Linked DNA regions of Homo sapiens: regions 2, 3 and 4 are each reported to be linked to region 1. Evidence: microRNA targets listed by miRTarBase, many of them from high-throughput screens and not tested one by one. Region 1 holds a microRNA gene; each other region holds the end of a gene's coding sequence.
The links. The annotated mature microRNA hsa-miR-6875-3p reads AUUCUUCCUGCCCUGGCUCCAU and lies in region 1 at 2,565-2,586, opposite strand. An mRNA with a match to its seed (bases 2 to 7 or 8) in the 3' UTR can be bound and repressed. Matches are read on the target gene's strand: a 7mer-m8 pairs with bases 2 to 8, a 7mer-A1 pairs with bases 2 to 7 and ends in A, and an 8mer does both.

Region 1 (7,123 bases):
ACATACAAAGCAGCCCACGTGAAAGACGCGATCAAGGGCCACAACCCCAGCCCCATCCCCAACCACATCTTCTCCGCAGCCACCACACTGGCCTGAGGACAGGGAGAAACAGCATCAGTCTTCACAGACCCAGGAAGCCACTGTCCCCTCTGTCTCCCAGCCTCCCTTCCCACGTCCCACCCACCCCACAGCCTCAGCTCACCAAAGTACTCCCCGCTGGGCGGGTGGTTCATGTCGTGAACCAGCTTCTTCGTCAGCCTATCCAGCTCATCCTCTGGAGGCTGGCTCAGGGGCACCTGGAAGGTGGGAATCGGGCTCGGTCCTACTCTAGCTCCTGATGCTGTAATACCAGGGCCCTCAGCCGCCAGGCCATGGCCTGTTAGGAACTGGGCCACACAGCAGGAGCTGAGCAATGGGCAAGCAAAGCTTCATCTGTATTTACAGCTGCTCCCCATCACTTGCATTACCGCCTGAGCTCCACCTCCTGTCAGATCAGCAGCGGCGTTAGATTCTCATAGGAGCATGAACCCTATTGTGAACTGTGTGTTCGAAGGATGTAGGTTGCAAGCTCCTTATGAGAATCTAATGCCTGATGATCTGTCACTGTCTCCCATCACCCCCAGATGGGACTGTCCAGTTGCAGGAAAACAAGCTCAGGGCTCCCACTGATCCTACATGATGGTGAATTGTATAATTGTTTCGGTATATATTACATTGTAATATACATTGTAATATATACCGAAACAATTATATATACTATATATTCTATTATTATTATAACAGAAATAAAGTGCACAATGAATGTAATGTGCTTGAATCATCCTGAAACCATCCCCCTCCCACCCCCTCCCATCCCCCTCCCCAGTCCATGGAAAAATTGTTTTCCCCAAAACTGGTCCCTGGTGCCAAAAAGATTGGGGACTGCTATAATGTCTCTGAAGGTGGCCAGGCAGTTCCAGCTAGAAAGCTCATCTGAGAACATCTCAGCCCAGGGGCCCGTAGGCAGTTCTTTTTTTTTTTTTTTTTTTTTTTTGAGACAGAGTTTTGCTCTTGTTGCCCAGGTTGGAGAGCAGTGGTGCGATCTCGGCTCACCGCAACCTCCACCTCCCAGGTTCAAGTGATTCTCCTGCCTCAACCTCCCGAGTAGCTGGGATTACAGGCATGTGCCACCATGCCTGGCTAATTTTGTATTTTTAGTAGAGACGAGGTTTCTCCATGTTGGTCAGTGTGGTCTCGAACTCGTGACCTCAGGTGATCCACCCACCTCAGCCTCCCAAAGTGCTGGGATTACAGGCATGAGCCACCGCGCTCAGCCCCAATGGGCAGTTCTATCCTGCTCCCCCGCACTGCCCTGCCCTTACCTATTCCACGTCCCAGACCTCTGACTCTGCTCCAAAACCAGCCCCTTGGCCAGGCGCGGTGGCTCAGGCCTGCAATCCCAGCACTTTGGGAGGCTGAGGCAGGCGGATCACCTGAGGTCGGGAGTTCGAGACCAGCCTGGCCAACAAACTGGGGTTTTAGTGAAACCCCGTCTGTACTAAAAATACAAAAATTAACCAAGCGTGGCAGCGTGTGCCTGTAATCCAGTTATTCAGGAGGCTGAGGCAGGAGAATCACTTGAACCCGGGAGGCAGAGGTTGCAGTGAGCCAAGATGGCACCACTGCACCCCAGCCTGGGCAAACAAGAGCAAAACTCTGTCTCAAAAAACAAAAAAGCCCCCTAAAACACCACCAGCCACCCCACCCAGTCGGTGTCCCATTGTCTGTAGGGCCTGAAATCCCAGTTCCCCAGGGCTCACCTGGGGCCCGTGCTCGCCTCCTCTTCCTCTTCCTGCAGGGCCAGAGACCCCAGCAGCTTCCTCTTTGGCCCCTGGCCCTGGCTCTCTCTGGCTCCTATAGCCAGGCCCCCAGACTTCACCTCGGCCTGGGAGAGGAAAGTGGGGGCCCGGGAGGGGCCCAGAGGCCTGAGAGGCTCCCCGCCTGGGTGGGCCGCAGCCCCTCACTGGCTGTGCCACCTTCACTTGCACGGGGAAGGCTGGGCCAGCCGGGGTGCTGGCGGTAGTGTAAGAGGCTGGAGTGGGGCCCCCATAGGGAGACGCTGGGAGCGGCGAGGCTGGATTTGGCTTCAGGGAGCCCGTGCGGTAGGCAGGAGGTGGCGGGGGCTCATATGCCTGAGGAGAAACGCAGGCCAGAAGTCGTAAGCAAGGACCCCACTCCAAGACCCACATTTGTGGAAATGACCCTGGCTGTGGGGAAGCACAGGCTTTTTGCATTTGACAAGGTCCCGTCCTCAAGTGGCTGACATGTTGGTACTTGCAGCCACGCTTCCTCCATGCTGGGGTGCACATTACACACATGGGGGATCGATCAGGCTGGGTCTGAGAGTCCAGAGAAGGGGGCAGGGTGCTGACGGGGAGGAGGGGCAGAGTCACCTGTCGGTCTGGTCGCCGTGACGCATGACCCCGACCCCCATTCAGCTCGGCCAGCGTGCTGCTCAGCAAGTCTATCTCGGCGTCCAGGCTTCCAGGGCGAAGGCCCCCCCTGTCTGCAGGGAGCCCCTGAGGATGGAGCCAGGGCAGGAAGAATGCAAATCACCATAGGCCTTCTCCTGTCCTGGGTCCCTCAGACTCGGTTCTGGGGGATCCCACATGTCCCACCCCACGATCCCGGGTCTCACCTGCGTGTGCTGGAGTACTCCATGGGACCCCACCCACGCCGGCCCCCGATCCTCCGGTCCCCCTGGGGCCTGGTAACACTGCTCAGATGGAAGGGGGCAAAAATTGACCCTGGGGTGGGGCTGGAGTGCTGGGTTGAGGGAAGAGAAATCAAAGGTGGGGTGGCGGAGGACAGGAGGGGTGTATATTTGAGGAGCCACCCTCTCCGCCTCTCGTTACCTCCTCCCCCAAATCTAGGGTCCCAAGAGAGCGCAGGCGGCTGTTCCCCCCGCCTCGGCTTGGGGAAGGGGCAGGAGGAAGCAGCCAGGGCGGGAGGCTGGAGCGGTAGGACAGAGGTGAGCGCCACAGCTGGGTGGCTCTTCTGTCTCACAAGGGCTGCCTTACCTGCTCCGTGGGCCGGTGGTGGCCCCGGGGTGCCGCGGGGGATCGCCCTCCCCTGAGGGGCTCTGGCGGGCTCCGGCTGCTTCGGGGGCAGCCAGGTGGGCCCCGACATGGCCTGGAAAGGGGGACTCCAGACAGCGGTCTTGAAGCCCCGAGCCTCTGGCCTTCACCCCCTCTTCCGTCCCGCACCTCGTTTGGGACTCCAGAAAAGAAAACTTTTTCTGGCTTTTTTTTTTCCTCTTCCTCCCTAATTTTGGGGACGACCACGCCTCCGATGACGTCACCACATTCCTGGGGGAGGGTCACGTGGCCCCCTAGGCCCTAAACTGCCATTTCTCCCTGAGTCAGCCCCCTCCTGCCGAGAGGGGAGGGCTCTCCGGGGGATCCCGAGTCACTGGGGGTTGCGGGCAGCTGGGGATGGGAGGTGCGGGCCCGAGCCAGCCTCCAAGTCCACGGATGCGTCCGGGCCCCGCACCCCAGCCCTGCACGTGGCAGCCTCGCGGCGGGAGGCTGAAGGCTCCGATCTCCACCCCTCTGCAGAGCTCTCCATTCCCACCCCCTCCCTCTCAGCTACCCACCAGCACTGCTCAGCCAGCCTGTAGTGTTTTGGTCTTTTATTCATGGTCAGCAGAGTTAGAAAAATAAAACAGAACGAAAACATCACCACCCCAGTGGGCCGGTGAGTCTGGCCAAAATGGGGAAACTGAGGTAGCCCAGAGTCACAGAGGAGGCCTGGCCCCTAGCATCAAGGCACCAGTGAAGGGAGGCTGCGGACTCCCTCCCCTGCACGGTGGGGACAGCCACCCAGAGTTAGTGTGCTGGGGTCCCTCTGCCAAAGGAGGTGGGCGTGATGCCCAAGCCCAGGATCCCCTTCAAACCTCCCCTGGGCTCCACGTCCCAAGGGCAGGGCCACGGGCCACAGTGGCCTCCTCTTCCTCCTCCTCCAAGGATCAGGATAGGCCGCCTGCCTGGGCCCTCTCTACCTAGCCCTGGAGGCAGGGGCATCACAGATCAGTGCAGGTGACTGGAGTGACCCCATGAACCAGCAGCGTGGGGCCCAGGTCTCGGGTTAGAGTCTCCAGTAGCGCCAGGTAGCGGGGGTATCGGGCGGGATCGGCTGGCGGCCGAGGCAAGTACAGGAAGGTGAGGGCTGTGATGGGGCCCTCAGCATCCCCACCCTCCGGCCCACCCGGCCCTCCTCCTGTGCCGCGCCCCTGCTGGGCCCGAACCAGGGCGTTGGCGCTGCGTGCCAGGGCCTCTGCCTCTGCGTCTCCCCGCCCACTGTTCACAAAGTCCCCTTCCTCCTCCGCCTCGGGTTCCCCAGCCCCGGCCCCCTCGCCCCACACCACCTCCTGCACCTCAGCCCGGATCCTCAGTTGGCTCAGCAGTGCCCGCAGCCGCCCCTCGGCCGCCCCAGGCGCCTCCCGAGGCCCCAGGCACAGGAAGATCCGGAGCCGGGCGCTATGCCAAGCGGGCACCATGCCCAAGATGGTTGCCATCTGCAGCAGGAAGAGGCCGCAGACATCCACATAGCCGGGCCCACCCCGGGGCCGCAGCAGGTTGAGGGGCCACACGTCCACATGGTGCAGCTGAGAGGTGCCCCCAGACCCCCGGCTCAGCCGCTCAGGGGGCAAGGCCCCGCTGGCCCGGGCCAGCACCACATTCTTGTTCATCTTGAGGGCGTCGGCCACCGTGGCCACATAGTCCTGGGGATTGAGGGCCCGGGGGCTCCCAGGAGCCCGGGGAGGAGGGAACAGGGTGCTCAGAGCTGGGGAACTGCCCTCCCTGGTGCTGTCTGCAGGCTCAGAGAAAGCCGGGTCCGTCAGGAAATGGTCCTGCGGTGGAGCGTCATCGTAGAAACCTAGGACCAACGTGTTGGGCTTCATGCCACCTGGGGGCAGAGCGGGGAAGGCAGGAACAGACAGGAGTCAGGCTCACAGGCTAAGTTTACACCACGCTCCCACACACTGACAGCAAGGTGCGTCAGCCATAGGTATGACATTCCCACTGTGTACGGGCTCTTACGGCAACATTCTGCATATTTGCATAAAGACTTTTCATTTTTCCTAAACACTTTCACATGCATTTATTTTATTATCTCAGTGACTAATCTCCTCCACTTAAACAGGCAAAGTTCGCCTTAGGATTCTTGCCACTAATGAGCACTCCAATTCTATGGAGAGGAGGATGCTGTCCACTCCCGGCTTCTAGCGGGGCATCTGTTTCACGGCAGGGGATGCGAGTTTGACTCTGTTGTGCAAACCAGACACCCTGATCAGCCAAGCTCATGACCTGAATCCCCAGGGTAATAGCGTCCCAGACTCTGCAATGGGAAGATGAAAAAATGGACCAGGCAGGGCACCGTGGCTCACACCTGTAATCGCAGCATCTTGGGAAGCTGAGGCACGTTGATCACCTGAGATCAGGAGTTTGAGACCAGCCTGGCCAATACGGTGAAATGCTATCTCTACTAAAAATACAAAAATTAGCCGGGCATTGTGGTGGGCATCTATAATCCCAGCTACTCAGGAGGCTGAGACATGAGAATTGCCTGAACCCGGAAGGTGGTGGTTGTAGTAAGCCGAGATCACGCCACTGCACTCCAGCCTGGGCAACAGAGCGAGACTCCATCTCAAAAAAAAAGAAAAAAAGAAACAGGGCTACCCCGTATGTTTACTGCAGTAAACCCTAACCCTAGTAGGTTTTACCAAAACCCTAATCATGGTGGTTCATTGCATGGTATCCGCTTACCAGGGGCTATGTCCTGTAGAAAGCACTTTATATTTTAACTTATTTGAAACTCGAAGTAATGCTATGAGGTAGGTAATATTTAGTCTCCTCTTTTTACTGATAAGGAGCCCAAAGCACCAAGGGATGAAGTCACTTGCCCATAGGCTCATATCTGGTAGGTACTGGGGCAGGTAGGTCAACGCAATCCGCCTCCATCCAGCGTGAGAGGCCACACTCTGAGCCACCGAGCTGGGCACGTGGCAACCACAATGCTCCAAGTCCCTGCTGACAAGCTCTTCGTTCTTAATTTTTGAACAACCCTTGTGGAATCGGATAATTGCTGAGTTTACAGGGAGACGCAGAGACCTCTTCCAAGACCCCTTCTCATGAAACAAACACTGCTCAAGCCATAAATCAAATTTTCTATGACAGGAGAATCCACCATTTAAAGGAACTACTTTTCCTTTTATTGGAATAGGTTGGTGCAAAAGTAATTGTGGTTCTTTTTTTCCCCCATTAAAATGGCATCCCAGCACTTTGGGAGGCTGAGGCAGGCGGATCACCTGAGGTTGGAAGTTCGAGATCAGCCTGGGCAATATGGTGAAACCCCGTCTCTACCAAAAATATACAAAAATTAGCCGGACAATGCTGGCGTATATCTGTAGTCCCAGCTACTTGGGAGGCTGAGATGGGAGAATACTTGAACCCGGGAGGCAGAGGTTGCAGTGAGCTGACATTGTGCCACTGCACTCCAGCCTGGGCAACAGAGTGAGACCCTGTCCAAAAAAAAAAAAAAAAAAAGGCAAAAACCGCAATTGCTTTTGCACCGACCTGATATCTTCCACAGGAAAAATTTCGTATTTCATAAGCATTGTGGTCTCTGCACAAAAAGTGAAGACCAGGCTCTCAGATGTTCTGTGGGTCAATGATGCTTGACGACACCCCAAAACATCTCCGCAGGTGTGAATTCCAGCTGATCTTGCAAAATAAACTAGTCATGCCCCCTCCTCAGTATTTCCCAGGGTTCTGATTTACACTGAACTGGGCAATGTCCAACACTGTTGAACTTTAGCCAGACTCTGAATAGAGAAGGAAGCATGCACTTTGGTGACGGGCACTGGTCCAGGATTAAGGGAAAAGGCAGTGACTGAGCATAGATAACCCTGGTGGCCTCAGCGCTAAAAGCTGAGAATTTACCGCTCCATCCACAGACGTCCGCCCCACACAGCCTCCGGCATCCTTTGTGGCTTTGGGTGGCGGGGGCAGGGGAGACATGTTACATCTCCTACATCCCAACCTCTTTCAAAGTCTGGATGAATTACCATCTCTCCGCAAAA
Region 2 (7,123 bases), not on the chromosome of region 1:
TTTCACCAGCTTCCTCTGTAAAAACAGGAGTAGGTGAGCCTTAAGGTGAAGACACAGTGCCAAGCGGCCATCTTCACTGCTGCTTGGGTAGACCCAGGGTCCCAGGGGAATCAGTGCTGCATCATCTTTTCAATCCACCCATTTCTATTTAATCCAGCATTTGCCTCTTTATATGAAATGTGCTGACCCAGTGCCTCTTTTTATCTGCACTCTTTGTGGTAAGGCAAGTTCTCCAAGGCCTATATTTCAAGGTCTTTGTTTATAAATAGGCTCTGTCTTGCCAACTAGATAAAAGCACAGGAAATGATGTAGGATGAGATATTTCATTAGACACTTAAATTCTATTACATTTCTCCTACAGGAGTTGTTCACTCTAAAATGGCAGAAAAGCAGTTCTCATGTTAAATAGTCCCCAAGCACACCTTTGAATGAAGTGACTTGGCCAGAAGATACTCCAGATCCACCAGGAACAGTCAAGAGATTGCCATCAGAGGCTGCTTTGCCCGTTTTGAAGGGCTCAGCCCATTTCATTTTATAGAGTGAGGAGAAGGCAGAAATGGACATGCTGGATGCGCCAGAGTCTCCAAAGCAGTGGATTTGTGGACATAGCTGGGCAGATTCTCGGAACTTCCTTTCTCAAATCAGGTCACAGCCCAAACCCCTGATGACGTCTGAGAGGGCTTTAAGACAAGTGACTTCTGGTGTGGGCCAAAACCGCATTAAATCCACATGGCTGTGATTATCAGCAGACAACTCAGCTTCCATCAGTAAAATATGTTCATTTCCCTCTTGCAAGCCCTTGCTTTCATCTTCTTTTCTAGCTGGACCACAGCTTGAGATAAATTTCATCACATAATCTTTTCTGTCAGTGACCTTGATGAGAACCTATATTTAATTCATTTCCTAGTGAAAAGCTGTAGACAGGTGAGTCTTGTGTGTCCTTGTGCAAACTTCATAAGGCGCCACCTCTAGTTTCATTCAGTGATTGTTCCCTGTCCCCCTTCTAGGAACCAACGTCCAAGAGGCCCAGAAGATACTCAACAACAGCGGACTCCCCATTACTTCAGCCATTGACCTGGAGGATGCAGCCAAGAAGGCTGTGGCCAGTGTGGCCAAGAAGTGATGTCTTTGTCCTGATCCAATGGAGAAAGAAAGCCATTTTTCCGTAAAAAGGGATGGTTCATCATTGTGAAAGAAATGGTTATCTCATTGGGGAAGAAAAGGGGAGGGGGAAGGCAAGAATCACTGAAAAATCTTAAATCTGTGTTTTCTGGAATAAGATATCTAGACAGCCTAAATCTGATTTTGGTCTTTATAAAAATAATATCTTGTGTTCTCATACTTTTCTGTCACTGTAAGCCTGCCCAGTAGGCAGTGTTTTGCAGACTTTGGGGAGTGGTCTATGTGGCCAAATATTGTGTGTATAGACAGAATTTGAAATCAAGTCCTGCTTCATTTACAAGAATTTTGGTGGGCATCTAATCCTACATAATGAAAAAGAAAAACAGACCATTTAAAAACTCAGACAAGATTATATTTAATATATTAATTACTAAAAAGGCATAAGATTACACTGAACATATTAGCTACTAAAAAGGCACTGCTAAGACATTCAAGCAAATAGCTATTACACACTACTGCAGATTTTACAGGTTTCTAATTCTAACATATGTTTGAAAAATCCGTGAGTATTCCAAAATATATTTAATAATGGAATATCTGCATTAATATACCATCCATGTGTTTTTACCATTTGCCTTAATATTGAATATACTGTTTACCTCACACTAAAAAGAAAACCAGAAGCCTTATTTGTGATTTTGGGAGTGGAAGCTTCCATTTTTGTGTCAAAAATGAATCCTGATTCTTATGGAAATCTCTGTTATTAAGATATTTCAAGATGAGACAACACTGAAGATCAAATTGTGTTTAGTATCACTATCTTCTCTCCTCGTTTCTCTCTTACTCCTCATCCTCCCAGAATCTACCAGTTTATGGTAGAAAGATGGGAACCTTATTTGAATGTGTTTTTTTTTTCCATGATGTCCAATTTTGTTGTGGGAAAGGATTTGGATAAAATTTTTGTTTAAATTTTGGTAGATTTTTATCTATACAAATTTAAATAAAATTATGTTTTGTAAGCTGTAAGATCTGTGTGTATCTCTCATTTTACTCAATTTTATTCCTCAAACATTTTTTTTTTTTACAAAGACACTAGTCTTAGTGTCTTAGGTATGCCTCTAAAATTTGATAATTTGGGTCATTCCAGGATTATTCCAGTTCCACTCAACTTTATCAGATACCCATTTCTGTGTTAGGAGATTATTGAATCCATAAAAGTTATACACAAACCAGAACCCCAGGAATGTATCTCAGATGTCTGACAGGTTGAACTGTGATGTCAGTCTGCGTAACGCAAAGGGAGATACTCCAGTATAACTCATTCCATTAAGTGAGGCTCAATTGCCACCATTAATTTTCCTTTCAGTGTATAAATATGTAGTAGACCAAACTATTTTGTTTGTTTTTTTTACCAGCTTACTTTGTTCTCATAAATTTTATGTGTGGACAAAAGTATGAAAGTCATTATTGTTTAGAGCCATGTTTGCCATGGAGAAATAAACTATTGGATAGATCAGTCTTACATCCTTTCTTAATGCCCATGCAATGAATGAAGAATATTAACAATGTCTTCTTAGTTGTGTTTTGGTTTTTGATAGCTTAATCACTAGTTGGTGCAGTAAAAAAAATAACCTATATTATGTCAACTAGACAACATTTTTAAATTTTTGATCTCTGAAGAGGACTATGTTTGAATCACTTGTAAATATTGATGTTTCCAGTCAACCCAATTTGGAGGAGGGGATAAAGCAATTAAATCATTTTTGTGATTATTTCATAAAAGGGTTAATAACAAGGAAATAGCCTTTTATTTTCAAATAAGCTCAAAGCCATCAGAGCTTGTTCTTTTTGCATCCTTAGCGTAGCTTGTCTCTAATTGTTTTATTCTCAGGCAGGCCATTTTTACAGGTGGATAATGGCTGCTGGCCATTACATGTGAGGTTCTCAAATTTAGCATCCTCAGAAGAGAAAGAGAGAGGGAGCAGAGGGAAAGAGAAAATAAATGAGCAAATAAACGAAAGAAAGAGGGAGGAAGGAGAGAGGAAGGAAAGAAGCTTCTCTTGGTAATTCTAAGACACCTCCCAAAATTGAATATGACTCCAGTGATCAGTTTCAGGTCAGTAACCTATTCCTGAATCTGGCCCCGGTTCATTTACAATAATTTTTGTGGTCTTCTATACAATAAATATAGGCCATAAAAAACTCAGACAAGTTTACATTTAACATATTAACTACCTGATATGGTTTGGCTGTGTCCCCACCCAAAATCTCATCTTGAGTTGTAATCAGTGTTTTTGATTGTTTTGGCTTTGAGCTTATTTGAAAATAAAAGGCTATTTGCTTGTTATTAATCCTTTTATGAAATAATCACATAAATGATTTAATTGCTTTATCCCCTCCTCCAAGAATTAAATTACAATTCTTCTACATTTTATTTTCATGTCTCTTCCTCTCAGTTTTCTCTCTGAGGAAAAAAAAAATGTCATTAAGAATTATATTGTTTTTTAAGTGCAAAGCCTTGATAAAAATTAGAAGGAATATTATTTTTTCACATTACTAAAGTAAATATTTGAATGTTTGATTGTGATCATTTGTAGAATACACTATATGTTCAAAATTAAAATAAGCGAGAAAATATATATCATAGTGGGGAAGGAAACAATGTGGGGAAGTGAAAAGGATATGTTCTTTCATATTTTTCTAGATCTGGAGTTGGCAAACTAAGGCCCAAGGGCCTATTTTAGTAAATTAAGTTTTATTGTCACAGACACACCCATTTGTGTGCATGTTGTCTGTGGCTACTTTCATGCTACACAGCAGAGCTGAGTAGTTGTGATAGAAACCTTATGACCCTAAAATATTTCCTCTTTGGCCCTTTACATAAAAGGTTTGCCAACCCCAGCTCTAGATAAATAAAAAAATACAACATTGCCCCCAAAATGACAGCAACGGAGTATTGTTTTCAAACCTGAGAAAGGAAGATTTAGATATTAAAGTGAAACAGAAATGGAAAAGTAGGAAATAAGATCTTTGATCTTTCCATTTTAAACCCTGTGAGAGCTACAAAAAGTCTACAAAAGGCCACTTGCCAATGAAAACCAATTCAGTTTTGTTACTTTTTGTCTTTCCATCACCACAAGGACTGTCTGCAGTAGCTCCTTGCACTTTTGAACATATGCTGTTCCTAACTGCTCACAGGTGCATTGGAATAATACCAAATCATGGCTATGAATATTAAACTACCAAAGGGCTGCACCTATCAACTAACTCATCCTCAAAGTGATCCTTGCTAGTAAGTATGTCATGCATTGTTTAGTCTTGGAAAGACTAAAGCAAGGAAAAAAAAAAGTGACTGCAGTGTACTTGATCCCCACCACATTACTGCAAAGGCAGTATCCATTTTACCAGTGAGGAAATTGTGACAAAGTGAGATAAAGTTGCTCCTCTTGAGTTTCGTAGTTAATGGCAAAGATGTTGGCTTCTGGACTTTGGATTCTTGTTTAATTCTATCATTTCTTCTATTGTCCAGTAAAACTTTCTGTATGACAGCAATGGTAAATATCAGTGCCGTCCAACATATAGTCATCCATCACATGTGACTATTGAGCATCCTGGGAACTGAATTTTAAAGTCTAATGCTAATTAATTGACAGCCACACATTGCTAGTGGCTGCCATATTGGACAGTATAGCTCTCTGGTCTAAATCTCCTGAGTATTAGGATGCGTTACTTTCACTTCAGAGAGGCTCACATTGATTAAGTGCTTTCTGTGTGCCAGGAACTTTACCTGTGCTATCCTAATTAATCCTCTTTAGCAACTCTATGAATCTGTCATTGTTGTTTTACTGGTGAGAACATTGTAACTCCGAGAATTTAAGTAACATGACCAAGAGCACAAAACTAGCATGTGGCGAGTCAGGATTGAAACTTGGTCTTCTGAGTCAAAAGCCACTGGTCTTTGTTTTGTATCTATGGGGACCCAAATTCACTAAGGTTATGCCACTTATGATCATTTGAAAGGATGTTGGAGGCAAAGACATTTAGCAAGCTGGGTTCTTGAATGTATTGCTTGCCCTGTGTATCTCATACTTTGGGAAGCAGGATTTAGAAGCAGAAAGATCACCATAAGCAACTGGCAGGTCATATGGACTACAATGTGAATGGCACCTCCGGGACTTGCACAAGGCATAAGGCAAGGGCCATTTTCTAGGGATCTAATTCCCAAGTGTCTTCTCTTTAACTCAGTGCCTTCCCAACATCTATAACCATGACCATCCAAAAGACAAAAGGCAGAGGGGCAGAAGAGATAAAGGCTGGAGGCACTTTTATCATATTAGGAGAAAATTTAGTGTGCAGCCTTTACCCTTCTTCTGGAGAAGTTTAGGTCTGGCAGTCTTATCTCATATTTTCATATTCTAAGTAAGCCAGGAGCAATTCCTAGGCACCTTATGCCAAATTTCACAAATCCAAAATTAATTAAATTGTATATGCCAGCTATGGGGAAATTGTCAGGTTTTTGTTGTTGTTGTTCTTGTTCCTCCCTTGTGTTTGTAGAGGCAGCAACATACAGGCATGTTTATTGGGAGCTCTCCTAATTCCTTTCCTAGCTAGGGAAGAAAAAAATGAAAGTAAGCCATGATGTAGTAGTCATTAACACATCTGTTTTCAAACATCAGACAATGGGAGAAACTAGAAGATTTGGAGATTCAATTTGGAGTTTTTTTTCAATTACCTTTTAATATTGAACATTCATGTGCTTTAAATCCTTATAACTAGTTGCCCTGAGCAAAACAAATAATTTTTGAAGGACCTTGTATTAAAAAGCAGAAACGACATCACAATGATAAATCGTTTTAAATAAATAAATAGCCTTGTATTAGGAATCACATACAGCACATACAGTAGTCCTCCCTTATCCATGGTTTCACATTTCAGTTTTAGTTACCTGTGGTCAGCTACAGTCAGAAAATAGATTAGTACAGTACAATGAAATGTTTTGAGAGAGACCACATTCATATAACTTTTATTACAGCATATTGTCATAATTGTTCAATTTTATTCCTGTTTGTCTCTTACTGTGCCTCATTTATAAATTAAACCTTTCCATAAGGATATATGTCTAGGAAAAGACATGCTATGTGTAGGGCTTGGTACTATCTGTGGTTTTAGGCATTCACTCGGGAGTCTTGGATGCCCTGCAGGTAAGGGGGGATTCCTGTATATTAATAAAAGTATTGGTTGGGTTTTATTTATCACTCTTCATGTATATGATCTCATGGATACAAACAGGTGACCTTGCCAATTGGTGCTTTTTGTGTGTTTAAGAAAAGAACAGTAGTAACCTTGCTCCCTGGATACCAATAAAAAATCTATTATTTTTTTAAAAGAATTTTGGACCTCTAGTTAAAAGATCATTGTTTCCCAACTGCATGACTCTATCTTGAAACATTTACTTATTGTTCTTTATTAAACATATTTTTAATTATCCTATGTTTTAAATAATTTCTTCCAAGATTGCTTCCTTTCAAGAGAACTTTTAAACATTCAGTTAAATAAGAACCCTTTAAATTTCTGTTAATTGTTTCAAATGTTACATAATTTGTATGGACCCATTGACAGTTGTAAACTTTCAGAATATTGCGTGTGAATTTCAAAAAAATTTGTAAAATATTCGCATACATTGAAATTCATTAAACTATGTTTTCTCATACTTTTATTTTTTATAAAAATCTAGTATTAAAAATAAAAGTATTAATATTCAAGTTTGACAAAAATATAAGAAAGTAGATACTCTTCATTAATTTAGTATTTACTATGTAATCAGTATAACGTTTCTGGAGGTCAGTTTTTTAGTACAGATTAACAGCCTCAAAAATGTTCATAGTGCCACTTCTTTAGGGTATGGAAATGGCTTCTGGGTAGGAACAGGTGAAACAGGAAAACAGAATGCCTGGGCTGATCTATGTGACAGAAGCAAAGGTTGAAATCTCTGTGCTGAAAG
Region 3 (7,123 bases), not on the chromosome of region 1:
ATCAAGTGGAGATAGGTTATGAAAGAAGCTATGTCAAGGGTGAATGTAACTCAAAATAATCACACATTTAACAAGATACTTCAACTGAATCTTATTTTAGAATTATTGTAGTTAGAATTTCCTTTTAAAGTTGTAAGTAGGTAACATTTTATTTGAAGATAAATTTATATGATTTTTATATTGTATAATGAGTAAAGAACTAGGATACAATGAAGTCTACCTCTATTTAAAGGAATGATGTTGACAAATATATACGTGCATGTATTTTGAAGATTTCATTAACCAAAATAGAAGAATAAGAATTTTCTATCAGCACTGTTTTTGTTTGGAATTAAACATTTCCATACTAATATAAATGCCAAAAAATAAATCAACTTTTACATTTCTTTCAGTTTTAATAGTGTAAGATCCTAGTGAAAGGTAAGGATATGTATATTAATAAATTTTTATTTTTTAATGTCCCTAAAAAATGTGCCATTTTACCATGTTTGCTCCGTTATTACTTGCATGGTCTTATGTCCAGTTTGTGGTTAGTAATTGAATATTGTGCATAGTATCACAGTATAGAATCCACGTTCATTATTCTCTAATCATAGTCTCATTGTTCTTGTAAATTCTTCTTCCTGTATTTATTGAAGCCTTACACCTTTTTATACTGTAGTCAACCATCCAAAAGTAAGAAGGCATTTCCCCCTCTAATAACTTTCTCTGCAGTTATCAGTCAGTTAAAAGAGCCCATGTAGTTTTAGAATTAGAGATATAGGGTGGAAAAGATAAAATACTAATTTGAGGTGTGCGTGTGTAGTGTCAGGCTCCGTACTTGAGAGCCAAAGGTTTAAGAGTCTTGATTTTATGCCAGGGATGCCTTCACTGAAACTCACCCAAATAGCAGAAGACTGTTTTCATCAATTTACTAATATCAATGTTATCTAGCACCACATGTTTTCTTTGTCCTATTGATTTATCATGCGATATTGCTTTGATGTGTTCTGTTGTTACTTTGCGCCTTTGGGGTTCCACATGCCTTCGTGGGAATCTCGGGGTGCAAGTAACACTGTATAAACGAAAATACTTTGAAAATTGCAGTGTAAACAAAACTAGCTCAGATGTTTGACACTTTGTTTGAAGTCTTTATTTCTCTTGTTTTCTCTCAATAGGAATATACAGATGTTGCCACAGGAATCTAATCTGAAATCGTACAAATGGAAATGACGCTACAGGAGGATGTTTGGGAGCATCTCTCTCTTTTTGTCAGGAGTTAGAAGTGACACTAAGGCACTAATACTGTAACTTCTTGATAAAATAACTTTATTTTTTAGTAGTGGAATGCTGCAACTTTTTTACACCTAACAATTGCTTTTAAATTACAGTATTCAATTTAAAAGTTGTATTAACTACAGTTTCCTTTGCAAAAAGTCTCAAAAGAATCACTTGAAGGGCATTATTTGTTGATGCATTTTTCTCTGAGCATGGTTTCATAGAGAGAACTTCACCAAGTAATATTCAGACGTTTATATGTTGAAAGTTTTGCTTACATAATAAAAACAAAAACAAGTGTCTGAATTGTATAGTGTCTTTACATGAAAGAACTTTAAACAGTGGCCTTATGGTAGAAAATTTTATACCAGATTTTTCTTTTTCTGATGACATTTTGGCTTATAACTCGAAGTTTTCTTAAGTTTCTGAAGATCAAGGCCTATATAATTCATACATTTCATATTATAAGAAGGCAAGAGACAAGGTGCTTCAAATATTCCATCAGGTAGTTGTGAGTGCACTGAATTTTTAGTAATATGTTCATTCAGTTTTTTTCCACAACTATTTGCTCTTTTCCAATTTCAAAATGCTATTGTGGAAAATATGTAAAGATTTTGTAATCTATAGTCCATCTTATTTTTCCCTCAGGGCAAGCTTGTGCATATCATATTTTTAAAGGCTTTTTAAAAATCTGACAAACAAAATCTCATATTTGAAAATTGTACTTTACTACTACAGCATTACACATTTTGCAAGCACATCTTATAGAGTGTTTACTTTTAGTTCAGTTGATATGTATTGCATACCTACTATGTGTAAGAGCAAATGGATGGGATTTTTAAATGAAATTTTTAGGCCCCAATACCTTATTTCTTTATGTTTTCTGTGTTCTGCTTAACAGTACATATACATTCCCAATTACATTTTTGTGAAATGTTTATTTGTAATAAAATAAAATGTTGTTGCTCTTTCTGCTTAAATAAGTTACTTGCCAGTTTGTGAGAGCATTATTTTAATTTTGTTTGAGACTTATAGCCTTGGATAGCACCTCTGTTTAAACAGTGTTTAAAGCACTGTTCTGTGCTTACAAAGACAGAGCTTTCAAAATTAAAATGTGAAGGTTGATAAGAACTTGGTTTTTCATGACTGGATGTGAAAAATCTTAGTACATTCAGTTTTCTTGTCCATATCTTTAAAAGAGAGGGCAGCCTTTTCCTTAAGTGAGTTCATGATAAGGGGGGCAAGTGCACTTGATTCATTGCTAAGCAGGTAATAAATTTGGGTAGATGGCCTGTCTTGTACTGTGTACAATCTCTATAGGTCAGGTTTTCCAAACATATTTAGCATTCCACTTATGGTAAGAAAGAAATGCATGCACACAGGTAGTATGGCAACTTTATATTGTGTTAGGTACTTATAAAATCTGTCTTAAATTTTAAAATAATTGATTTCATTTACTCCCATATTCTAGGGGACAGTAATGAGCTTTGAATATTTAATCATTTGATTGACAACTATGTATTGCACAGATACTGTACTAAAATTACAGCAATGAACAAGAAGACAAGACACATGGACCCTGCCTTTATGGTACGAAGAGTCTAATAGGAAAAATGGACATTAAACAGAAATATAACTTGGTAAATCGCCTTTATAGCTCGCTTTTTATTTATTGTAACACATAAAGGTAAGATGGCTGATTTACTATTATTCATTCCACAACTGATTCCCTATTTGGATATTCTTTTGGCACTGTCTCAATATGCAAAGCGTGTTATCTGCAAAATACCTGTGCAGAAAACATTGTGTGTATAAGATCTAAAGCCTAAAAGGAAAAACCAACTTTATAATTTAGAGTATAAAATAAGGACAGGGACCGTGTCTGTCTTGTCCACCATAGTATCCCCAGCACCCAGCTTCCTATTTGACGTGTGGTAAGAGTTCATTAAATATTAGTTGAATAATGAATGAATAAATAGGGAATAATAGAATATGTTTATTAGGAACTACATGTGTAATTTTCATATGGAGATTGAACAAAAGGTTATCCATAGCATTTTTTATTGACTGGAAAGAATTTGACTTCTTGAATGCATAAGACTTGAGAAGAGAAGTTTTTTTTTTTTTTCTTTTTTTTGATAAGTCCCCTACCATTGCCTCCTCACCTTCCTCCACTACGTGCTAGGCCCTTCGCTGGTACTGGGAAGACAAAGATAATAAGACACAGTCCCTGCTGTGAGGAAGCTCATGCACTGCTGAAGAAGAGATTCACAAAAACAAAGAATCACAATGTAGAGTAAGTACTTTAGTGGACATATATACAAAAGGTTGAGAGGAAAGTTGACATTTCTGATTCAGCATCCCCTCGTCATGTTTCTTTCCTATTGGTTTCACCAACCTCAGAAGGCACTATTCTGTTGGTGGTTTTACTGGTTTTAAAAATTGATGCATTGGGGGAAACTGGGTAAATTGTACGCGGGATCTCTCTGTATTATTTCTTTTATAGCTGCATGTGAATCTAGAGTTACTTCAACATAAATTTCAATTTGAAGAATTGCCCATAGTCTTATCACAGAGAACACTATTATAAATATTTTAGATGATACATTTTCATTTTTTTCTATTGGAAAAAAACTCGCTACATTTATGTGTAACAATTTATGTAGATGTATACTATGTACCACATTTTACCTAATAAATCCTACATTTTTGAATAGTTTTTTTTTTAAAAAAAAGACGGGGATACTTCCAGGCAGAAGCAAGAAAAGTAAAGCTGGATGAGAAACTCTTATTGTCTTTATTACCCAGCAAATTCAGTAACCACCAGGCACAAATTCACCAGGAACAACCAAGCAAGGAAGGAAGAAGAAGCTGATGCAACAAGGTGTGGTATGACTTCATCCCTCGCCCATCCCCAGAAGTAGCACTGAGTAAAACAATGGAGATGACAAAAATATTGGTAACAGTGGGCCCCAGTATGGACAAAGGCACTGACGAGGTGACCAGGCCACGTGGAGGAGAGTCAAGGAAAACTCTTGGGACAACGAAGTCTTTGCTTCCATCTCAGGACCTCAGCAGAAGGGGTAAGATTCACCAGGACTAGGCATTTCCCAGGTCTCAGAGCAGCCTGGGAAAGCCAAATCCTGCAGAAGTCAGAGACACCTTTGACTGTGTCTAGTGAGTTCTGGTTCTGGACATTTAATGGGAACCTAGAAGAGAGGGGATACCAGGTTCCCCAACAAAGTTCCGTCAAATAGGATGATTATGAGCTCTGAGTCCATTAAAATACAGAATGAACATTTAAGAACTGAGGAATCATAGATGTAGAATAGTATGTAAATGTTATAAATCTTGACAAAGAAAAATTAATGTACATTGACAAATTCAGACATGGAGGAGGTAAAGTGGGATAAAGACTTAAGAACTAACCGTCTCATCATTCATGGCCAGGTGTCATGTCACGTCATGTCTTAAAATTATAATATGGGGAAAAACGCTAGTGACCAACCTTAAGTTTTTCCACAATCTTTTTTTTCCTTGACCTTAATACAGTGGTTCTCAAAGTGTGGTCCCAGACCAGCAACATCAGCATCACCTGAGAACTTGTTAAAAATGCAGATTCTTGGCCCCACCCCAGACCTCCTGAATCAGAAACCCTGGGGGTGGGGCCAAGCAATCTGTGATTTAACAAGTCCTCCAGGGGATTCTGGCACATACTTGAGTTTGAGAATAACTGGCTTATTTATCCCTTTTAGGAACCAATGAAGAAACATTTATCTGAAGTTCAGCAGCCCCTTCAATTTAATGCCTAATTTTTTTTCTATTGCATTCAAATAAAGTTAAATCTAAAACTTGTTTGCTGGCCGGGCACAGTGAGTCACGCCTGTAATCCCAGCACTTTGGGAGGCCGAGGCGAGTGGATCACTTGAGGTCAGGAGTTTGAGACCAGCCTGGCCAATATGGTGAAACCCCATCTCTAATAAAAATACATAAATTAGCCGGGCGCAGTAGCATGCACCTGTAATCCCAGCTACCTGGGAGGCTGAGGCAGGAGAATTGCTTAAACCCGGGAGGCGAAGGTTGCAGTGAACCGAGGCCACGCCATTGCACTCCAGCCTGGGCGACAGAGCGAGACTCCATGTCAAAAAAGAAAATAAATAAATAAAACTTGTTAGAATAAAAAGTTTAGGGATTCCCCCCGTCAATCCTGTCTGTACATATGAGTGAATTGAGAGGTCTGGAAACATACCCACCCACTGTTAACACTGTTGATTTTTTTAAATGGTGGGATTATGAGTGACTGTACTCTTCTGTATCTATCAAATATAATGAATGTTGTATCATTTTTATAAAATAAAGTCTTTCTTTTTTAAAACAGTGGTAAGAACATTTCATCCTATCCATTATATATCTGCTACCAAAATCCAGGTAAACAAGCTTTTACGTTATAGGCTGGCTACTTCACTATAGTCCATTGGGGTTTTATTCCCGGCCATTCCTCCCACATCATAAAAAGTAGGTAGGCTTATTTTAAGTATGTATTGTGTTGAGTTTTAAGTACAAATTATTGATTTGTAATATTTAACAATAATATATAAAAAATTAAATTTGGCCAGGCACGGTGTAATGCCAACACTTAAGGAGGCTGAGGTGGGTAGATTGTTTGAGCTCAGGAGTTTGAGACCAGCCTGGGCAACATGGTGAAACTCCATCTCTACAAAAAATACAAATATTAGCTGGGTGTAGGGGCGTGCACCTGTAGTCCCACCTATTTGGGAGGCTGAGGTGGGAGGATCTCTTGAGCCTGGGAGATCAAGGCTGCAGTGAGCTGTGACAGCCTGGGTGACAGAGTGAGACCCTATCTCAAAAAAAAAAAAAAAAATTCATCTTACTGCTTTTCTTTTTAAAAAGAAAAACAACTTTTTTTTCCTGATCAAAAGTTGTTAAAAGACAACAGGCCCAAAATGGTGTCACTCATGCTAAGGTTCCATATCACCAAACAGAAACCTAAGTTGTTTATTTGGAAGATGTGACCTTCCAACAAATCAGAAGAGACAGTAGCCAAATTCCATTAAGCCAGCAAGATTTCACTTATATCCCTGTGAGGAAAGTAACCTTGAAATGGCCAGTTCTCTATTTGTTCCTTGTTCCTGCTTTCCTCCACTTTTTTCTGCCTATAAAACTCACCCACTTTGTTTAGCTCATTGGAGCTCCTTTCTAATTTGTAGATTGGATGCTGCCTGGTTCATGAATCACTAATAAAAGCCAATCAGATCTTTGAAACTCAGTTTGTTGAATTTTTGTCCTTGACAAAGTAGATAGAATAGTATGTAAAAGGGAGAAAAATTTGTCTATAATCCCACTGCTCATAAATATTTAGTGCAGACTAACATTTTGGTATTTTCTCATTAGTCTTTTTTCTGGGCTTTATTGTTTTGGTAGTTGAGATTATACTTTATTACATTTTTAAGGCCACCTTGTCCGGCCTTAAAAATGTTTTATGAAATCCTGAATTATATTAAAATTTAGGGGTTTTGGCTGGGCACAGTGGCTCATGCCTATAATCCCAGCACTTTGGGAGGCAGAGGTGGGCGGATCACCTGAGGTCAGGAGTTTGAGACCAGGCTGGCCAACATGGTGAAACCCCGTCTCTACTAAAAATACAAAAATTAGCTGGGTGTGGTGGTGCGTGCCTGTAATCCCAGCCACTCAGGAGGCTGAGGCAGGAGAATTGCTTCAACCAGGGAGGTGGAGGTTGCAGTGAGCCCAGATCGCACCACTGCACTCCAGCCTAGACAACAGAGTGAGACTCTGTCTCAAATAAATAAATAAAATTTAAGGGTTTTGTTTGTTTTGATGTACACAT
Region 4 (7,123 bases), not on the chromosome of region 1:
CAGCCATCTGCCTTGAGTCATAATTCTGAGGGAATTACCAGGACTCAGAAGAGTTTCTTTCCTAGAGAAAGTCCCAAGTAATTTTTTTTCTTTTGTCTTCTAGATCTCAGAAAAATTCATGTGTAAATTCTACCAAATTTGGTCCTGTATAGAGATACCTTGGAGGTGCCTTGGGAGGACATGAGGGTCTCAATCTGCCAGATGTTCCTGGCATATAAGTAGAATTTGCTGCCTGGAAATTCAACCCTCACAATATACCCCTCCCACCGTCATATCAAAATAATGAATTATCTGGCCAGGAATCATGTCCCAAACTTAACTGGCCCTTCTTTTAAAGGCTCTGCTTTCTGTTTAACTATCAGAGGTTTAATTTTACTTATTCCATTAGTAAAACTTCAGGGTGAACTGAAAAGGAATTTACCACCTGCAAGTTCTTTCATTTTACTAATGAGGAGGAGTTCTAAAAAGGGGGAACTTCAAATTAATGGTTTGCTGCTTTATGCCTTTAATAAAAATGTGTTGAGAAACGACTCTGTGAAAGGCCCCAGTGAATAACAAATGGGTTGTGCCCTAAGGCCTTGAGGTTTGATAGGTCTGTGGTCAGGAGTGACTAGACATGCATAAGAGAGATACAAAGTGCTAGGAGGGAGGAGGGCAGCAGGGGGCCGCTGTTAGGTCCCTCAAATAGGCTACTTTCAGAGAAGATTTAAAATCTCATCTGTGATCTTTACCTTCAATTTGGTAACAAGACTGAAAAAAAATCACACAAGTCTCTCATCAAAGCATTCAGAAAGAATAAAATATTTTAAATTTCTCTCTTGCAATATAGAATTATGCAATATATTTGAGGAGGAGAAAAATAAATTTCACAATGAAACCAGATAACTAGATATAAGTTGAAACACTATTGTGAATGGATCTTCATGACATACAAGAAATATATTATGTACAATTTTAGGCTGGTCTTCATAGAATTTAATGCGCTTGGAATTAAATGATAATCAATTATGGCAGGACTGCCGATTAGCAACTTTTTTAAAAAAAAGCTCTAATGCATTGTTTAAGTGTACCTATTCTTTTACCCTCTTACAGGATTTAAATCAATTCATGACTCTCTCAGCTCCCTCCAACAAATACAGAAAACAAAGATGGATTTAGAGAAATATAAAGTACAGAAAGACCTAAAGAAATTACAGCGCAAGATAGTGGAACTCCAGGAAGTATAAACCTTTTCAGTCATCTTCTTTTTCATCAGCCAATGGAGTGATTTGTTGGAAAAAGTTCTGAAGAAGAAAGTTACTATCTCTGGGATGTTTACTGCTTCTAATGTCTCCTTTTAAGGAGACGAATGTACCAGAAAAATAATAAAGCAAAGAAGCTTCGGATGTCTTGAATTTATTAATGAAAAAACTAAGAAATTTCTTTATATAGCTGCCTTTATGTATATATATACCTATAAATAACGAAAGAGGAATCTACATAAGGTACATGAGTGAAGTAGGCCAGCTGTAATATATTAAAGAATGACAGGAGCTCTGGCAAATTGGAGAGCACTTACTCTGTCTAAAAATAATAGCTACTATGTAGTGACAGTCCATGACTAACATATATATATATATATAAAATCCATTATTATCCAAAATTCCACTTTTCAAGAGAAATTCCTCTATTTTTAAGCTTTAGCAACTAGTTCAAAATAGTTCTCAAACTATGTGAGATACGCCTGTGGAGCAGATATGACCTAGTGGTCAGTTTGCAACTTCTAATCTCAATGTTTGTAGCAAGTCTAACTTATGCATATTTAAAATATATTTTCCTTGTACTCAATATGTACCAGAATTATAAGCAATTAAGAGCCAAACCATGCAAAATAAGAGAATACAACAGTTTCCATGAAAACATATCCAACGTAATTTGACCTAGGTGCTAAATTCAGAAGTACTTCAAAAATGCTAGTTTCCTATACAATTAAAAATTGTTGGCCAAGTGCAGTGGCTCACACCTGTAATCCTAGCACTTTGGGAGGCTGAGGTGGGTGGATCACTTGAGGTCAGGAGTTTGAGACCAGCCTGGCCAACATGGTGAAACCCCGTCTCTACTAATAACACAAAAATTAGCCGGGTGTGGTGGCGTGCGCCTGTAATACCAGCTACTCGGGAGGCTGAGGCAGGAGAATCACTTGGAACCCTGGAGACAGAGGTTGCAGTGAGCTGAGATCACGCCATTTCACTCCAGCCTGGGTGACAAGAGCAAAACTCTGTCTCAAAAAAAAAATTGTCTAACTTTTCTAGATATAAATATTAAATATAGAGCCTAATATTGAGCAGTATATTCATGAAACATAAAAATGAACTATTCAGGATATGCACTCGGCTATAACAAGGACTAATTTCTAATCACAGAACTTATGTAAGCTTGGCAATGGAAACTTTGCTTCCGACTTAGGCTCCTTCCTTGGCTTAGGGAAGAAAAGTGACAACTTCCTCCCCTAATACAGAACAAGTTTACCTTCTGAGTAAATTTTTGACTAATGCTCACTTCTGTAATGTTTTAACTCTATGAAACATCTCCTTTTATTGCTATTAATAACCCACATGCAGCATCATTGAGTCTATAACTGAAGGGATTTTCATAGCAGAATTTAATTTAAGAGTTTAAAATGCAGTATGTTCAGTGATGATATGGTATCCAACGAAAAAGTAAGAAATATTAAAATAATGCAATGGTAAGTGTCCTTTGTAACCAAGTATCATGCTAAGACAGAGGGCTAATATCCCAAGTAATCCCAAATAACTTTTACAAGTAAGTAAGAAAATAATCAATTTTTTTTCAAAATGGGCAAAGGATATGAACAGGCAAGCCACAGAAGAATATAATAATATGAAGGTATGAGAAGATGTCCAACTTTACTGTTAAATAAATAAAAATTAAGAAACCCTTAGCTACTATTTTCAAGATTGGCAAAGATTAAAGTGATTGATAATACTGGGCTGGCAAGGGTGGAGAAAGAGTGCACTCTCATACATTATTGGCGAGTCTATAAATTGGTACAATGATTTAGATGGCAATTTGAGAACATCTGTTAATGTTTTTAAATGTAAATATCTTTTGATCCTGCAATCCATGGCTAGAAATTTATATTACCGGGGGAAACAACTCCCAAAGTGTGCAAAGATATATGAACAAGAATGCTCATTATAGCATCATTTGTTATAGTTAAAAAAAAAAAAAAAAGGAAAAGAAACACCAAAACCAGAAAACACCCAAATATAAGGAATTGATTGACTAAATGGTATTAACAAGACCACTCCCCCCACCACCCAATGCTGGACAGCCCTTTAAAAAGAACACAGAAAGATGTCCAAGATATACTGTTAGGTGAAAAAGACAAGTTTAAAAGCAATATGGATATGATCCACTTTTGTCATAAAATGTTTTAACTAAGTTAAACATAATATGCATATACTGTATGCCAAAAAAGGTAAGAATTTACAACAAACTTAGTGGATTCTATTTTTTAAAAAACTTCTGTTTTCTACATTAAGGATTTATGAAAGCTTTTATATTTTTATATAATATTTTTGTTTCTACTAAAAATATTTTATAAAAACAACAACAAATATAATAGGCTGAAAGAGTAACTCTTTGTAATGAACTAAACAAATGATTGTAGGGAGGGTTAAATTAGGAATTAATACAGACTAAGAGTCAAGTCATCTCACTCTCTTTTTGCTATACAGACATAGCTACAAAAGCAGAGAGGATACACAGCAACTGAAAAAAATATACATTTTCTCCTTGTTCTAAATGTTCTAATGTTCTAAAATGTTCTAAATTAGATTGTAGTTCAAATAATAGTGTAAAATCAGGCCAAAAGTTTTCCAACAATAGATCTTTCATTGCTCTTGGCCAGGACAGTAACATGTGGGGCAGTAGATCAAAGGATCAAAGAATCCTCTATCACCACTCTTCTACTTGGGATGCCAAATTGAGGTGTTCACGGGTTTGCACAGACTCTAGATAGTCAAAGAACTATGCTCATTGAGCAGGTGGATCCAGGTTTCTCAGAGTCTAAAGCTTATGATGTTTCAGTTTGTTATTGATGTACTGTCCTGATGCCAGATGAGTTAGCACAGAAGTCTATAAGAATATTCCTGGAAGCCACTCCTAATCAGGACAGCTAGTAGTAACTCAACACAGAAGTGACTGTGAACAACATGAATATATCCCTGTAATCCAAATGTATCCCCAACTCAACTTCTCTTTGTCCACAGCCACTTCAGCACCACCCGACATCAAGGGAAGTGGGAGTGAAAAGAGGCAGTGGTCTTAATCAATGGCATTCATCAATTATGTTTAAAATGTCTTACTTCTGTAAATATGACAATGATCTTGTAAATACATGGCTAGAGCTCACGCAAGCAGGAGCCCCTGAAGCTTAAGAGCCATTGTTTCACAGTAAATTCACCTCTGTTCAAGGAACCAGTGGAGCACTGGGCCTCCCTCCCCTTGCATTTATTTTGACAGAAATCCAAAAAGATAAATAAAACTATCCTCCTAAAGAAGCTCAATATACATGGCACTTTATTCCATATCAAACAATATTACTTAATCCTTTGGGAAATGTCAGACTTCTCTTCCCACAAATATAGGATGATTGAGCACTGGAGAATCTGCAATCCAGATCCACGCTACAGACTTGAGGCATATGTTAAAATATGCTCAGGTAGTTTTTACTTTAAGTACAAACACCATTTAAACAGTCTTGAATAGTTAAGGGTCCTACTGCCCTTAAATTTCCTGTTGTTTCCTTCCTATTATCAACACCTGCTCTTAGAAAACATAGGAGAAAAGCCCCTTGACATTAGTTTTGACAATGACTTTTTGGATATAACACCAAAAGCACAGGCAACAAAAGTAAACAAGTGAGATTACATCAAATTAAAAAGTTTCTGCACAGCAAAGGAAACAATCAGCAAAATGAAAGAACCTATGAAATGGGAGAAAATATTTGCAAACCATATATCTGATGGGGAACTAGTATCCAAAAACATATAAGGAACTCAACAACTCAATAGCCAAAAACACAAATAACCTGATAAAAAAAATGGGCAAAGGACCTGAATAGATGTTTTTCCAAGAAGATATACAAATAGCCAACAGATATATAAAAACTCAAATGATAACAGGTGTTGGTGAGGATGTAGAGAAAAGGGAACCCTCGTGCACTGTATGTGGGACAATAAATTGGTACAGCCATTAGGGAAAACAATATGGAGGCTGTTCAAAAAAACTAAAAATAAAACTATCACATGATCCTGCAATCCCACTTCTGGAAAATAAAGTGAAAACAGTATGTCAAAGAGATATTTGCACCCTATGTTCACTGCAGCATTATTCACAATAGCCAAGATGCGGAAACCACCTGACAGAAGAATGGATAAACTGTCATCTATGTATATACATATATATATAATTCAGGTTTACAGAAGAAAGAAATCTTGCCATTTGCGACAACATGAGTGAACTTAGAGGGCATTATGCTAAGTGAAATAAGCTAGGTACAAAAAGCTAAATACTGCACAAACTCACTTACATGTGGAATCTCTTTAGAAATAAATGAAGAATAGAACAGTAGTTGCCAGAACTCATAGAAATAAACAGAGAATAGAACAGTAGTTGCCAGGGGCTGGGAGCCGAGGCAAATGGAAGATTTCAGTCAAAGGATACAAACTTTAAAGTTAAAATGAATAAATTCTGGAGATCTAATGTACAGCATGTGGATCATACTTAATAATGTACTGTCTATTTGAAATTTGCTGAGAGATCTTCAGTGTTCTTACCACACACACAAAAATGGTAACTATGTGAGGTGATACGTTAATTAGCTTGATTGAGGTATCACAGTGTATATTAAAACCCACAATGTACATCTTACATATGTAGAATAAAAAATTTTAAACTTGCTCTTTGGGGAAAAATCATATGAAATTATTCATACTGAGGACTAGATGGTCATGTTCAAAGTGTTTTACTTCTGCACTAAAAATTAAGGACAAATCCCTCCCCTTCTGCCACACAGGTAACTGCTTTCTCAGCCCCATTGTGAGGCATATATGCTTGCCATCTGGTAGTCAGGACAGCAGCAAGGCCCAAGACTTTGGTCAAAGAAACAGCATTCCCAGAGTACTCTAGACACCAGCAGCCCTCCCGTCTTCTAATTTTCCAAACATAGACTCCCTTCCATTGGCTTCACCCATAGTAGCAGCAAGTAGCATCCCAAAACACCAAGAAGGAAAAATTTGATCTATAGTACACACACACACACACACACACACACACACACAGTGCACATTGTTGCCTTACAAAAGGGATCTCCAAAGTTTTTGTGAAGTATTACTATTTCTATCTTTCCAGCTTCCATACATCCATGGGCTAGCCACTGTGGATACAATATTGAACAACCTAAACACAAACCCTGCCTTCAGGGAATTTATAGTTTAGTGGAAAAGACCAACAATTAAAATCACAAATACATGGGAAAGTAGAGTGTAATGGGAGAGCCAGAGAGAGGAAACACATTCCCTGTGTTTACCAGAAACACAGGGAATCAGGCAGAGGGGTCTTCCAGAAGAAGGAGTATCTAAATTGAGACCTCCAATGTATAAGCAGACATAAGTCAAGGGAAAGAGGCTTGATTGGTAGAGGTGAGGGCTCAGGCAGATTGATCAGCCTGAGCAAAGGCCTGGAGGCCAAAAGAGAATGGGGATATATGCCAGAAATTGCAAGAAGCTCAATAAGTGTAGGTCAGAGCCTATGCTGTGTGTTAGGGGAGGTGAGTAGTGAGAGAGAAGGCTGGAGAAGTTAGGGAAAGTGGGGTGTCTAATCACAAAAGACTTTGTAACTCATATTGAGAAACTTGGGCTTTATCTTAAGGATCCAGAGTAGCCTTTAAAAGATCTTAAATAGGAGAGTGACAGATTTGCATTTTATAGAAAGATCCCTCTGGCTGCAGTGTAGAGAATACATTAGATGCAGTGTGGGAAGCAAATTTGGGTGGGAAAGGAGGGAAATAATACAGCAGAGAGGGGATAATGAGATGTTTTAAACTAATTGATTTTGA

Region 2: the mRNA of SUCLG2 is a reported target of hsa-miR-6875-3p. Seed matches in the 3' UTR shown: 8mer at 1,214-1,221.
Region 3: the mRNA of BCLAF3 is a reported target of hsa-miR-6875-3p. Seed matches in the 3' UTR shown: 7mer-m8 at 4,118-4,124 and 7mer-A1 at 5,021-5,027.
Region 4: the mRNA of FAM81B is a reported target of hsa-miR-6875-3p. Seed matches in the 3' UTR shown: 7mer-A1 at 1,289-1,295.

The regions. Positions count from the first base shown.
Region 1 is chr7:100,863,543-100,870,665 of GRCh38, reverse strand. It overlaps MIR6875 (microRNA 6875), which reads right to left and starts at 2,630; the gene lies at 2,559-2,630. It overlaps SLC12A9 (solute carrier family 12 member 9), which reads right to left. Exons shown (of 14, transcript NM_020246.4): 14 at 3,656-4,947. The coding sequence ends at 4,061. TRIP6 (thyroid hormone receptor interactor 6) reads right to left here and starts at 3,279. Exons shown (of 9, transcript NM_003302.3): 1 at 3,060-3,279; 2 at 2,678-2,805; 3 at 2,433-2,558; 4 at 1,800-2,171; 5 at 203-296; 6 at 1-92. The coding sequence starts at 3,168. RefSeq lists an enhancer at 2,492-2,591 and silencers at 3,032-3,181, 3,542-3,631.
Region 2 is chr3:67,369,744-67,376,866 of GRCh38, reverse strand. It overlaps SUCLG2 (succinate-CoA ligase GDP-forming subunit beta), which reads left to right. Exons shown (of 11, transcript NM_003848.4): 11 at 1,008-2,148. The coding sequence ends at 1,123. Among named protein-coding and RNA genes, the nearest start is that of MIR4272, 150 kb to the right of the region's middle.
Region 3 is chrX:19,911,369-19,918,491 of GRCh38, reverse strand. It overlaps BCLAF3 (BCLAF1 and THRAP3 family member 3), which reads left to right. Exons shown (of 12, transcript NM_001367774.2): 12 at 1,158-5,632. The coding sequence ends at 1,187. Among named protein-coding and RNA genes, the nearest start is that of SH3KBP1, 27 kb to the right of the region's middle.
Region 4 is chr5:95,449,057-95,456,179 of GRCh38, forward strand. FAM81B (family with sequence similarity 81 member B) reads left to right here. Exons shown (of 10, transcript NM_152548.3): 10 at 1,093-1,385. The coding sequence ends at 1,226. Among named protein-coding and RNA genes, the nearest start is that of FAM81B, 61 kb to the left of the region's middle.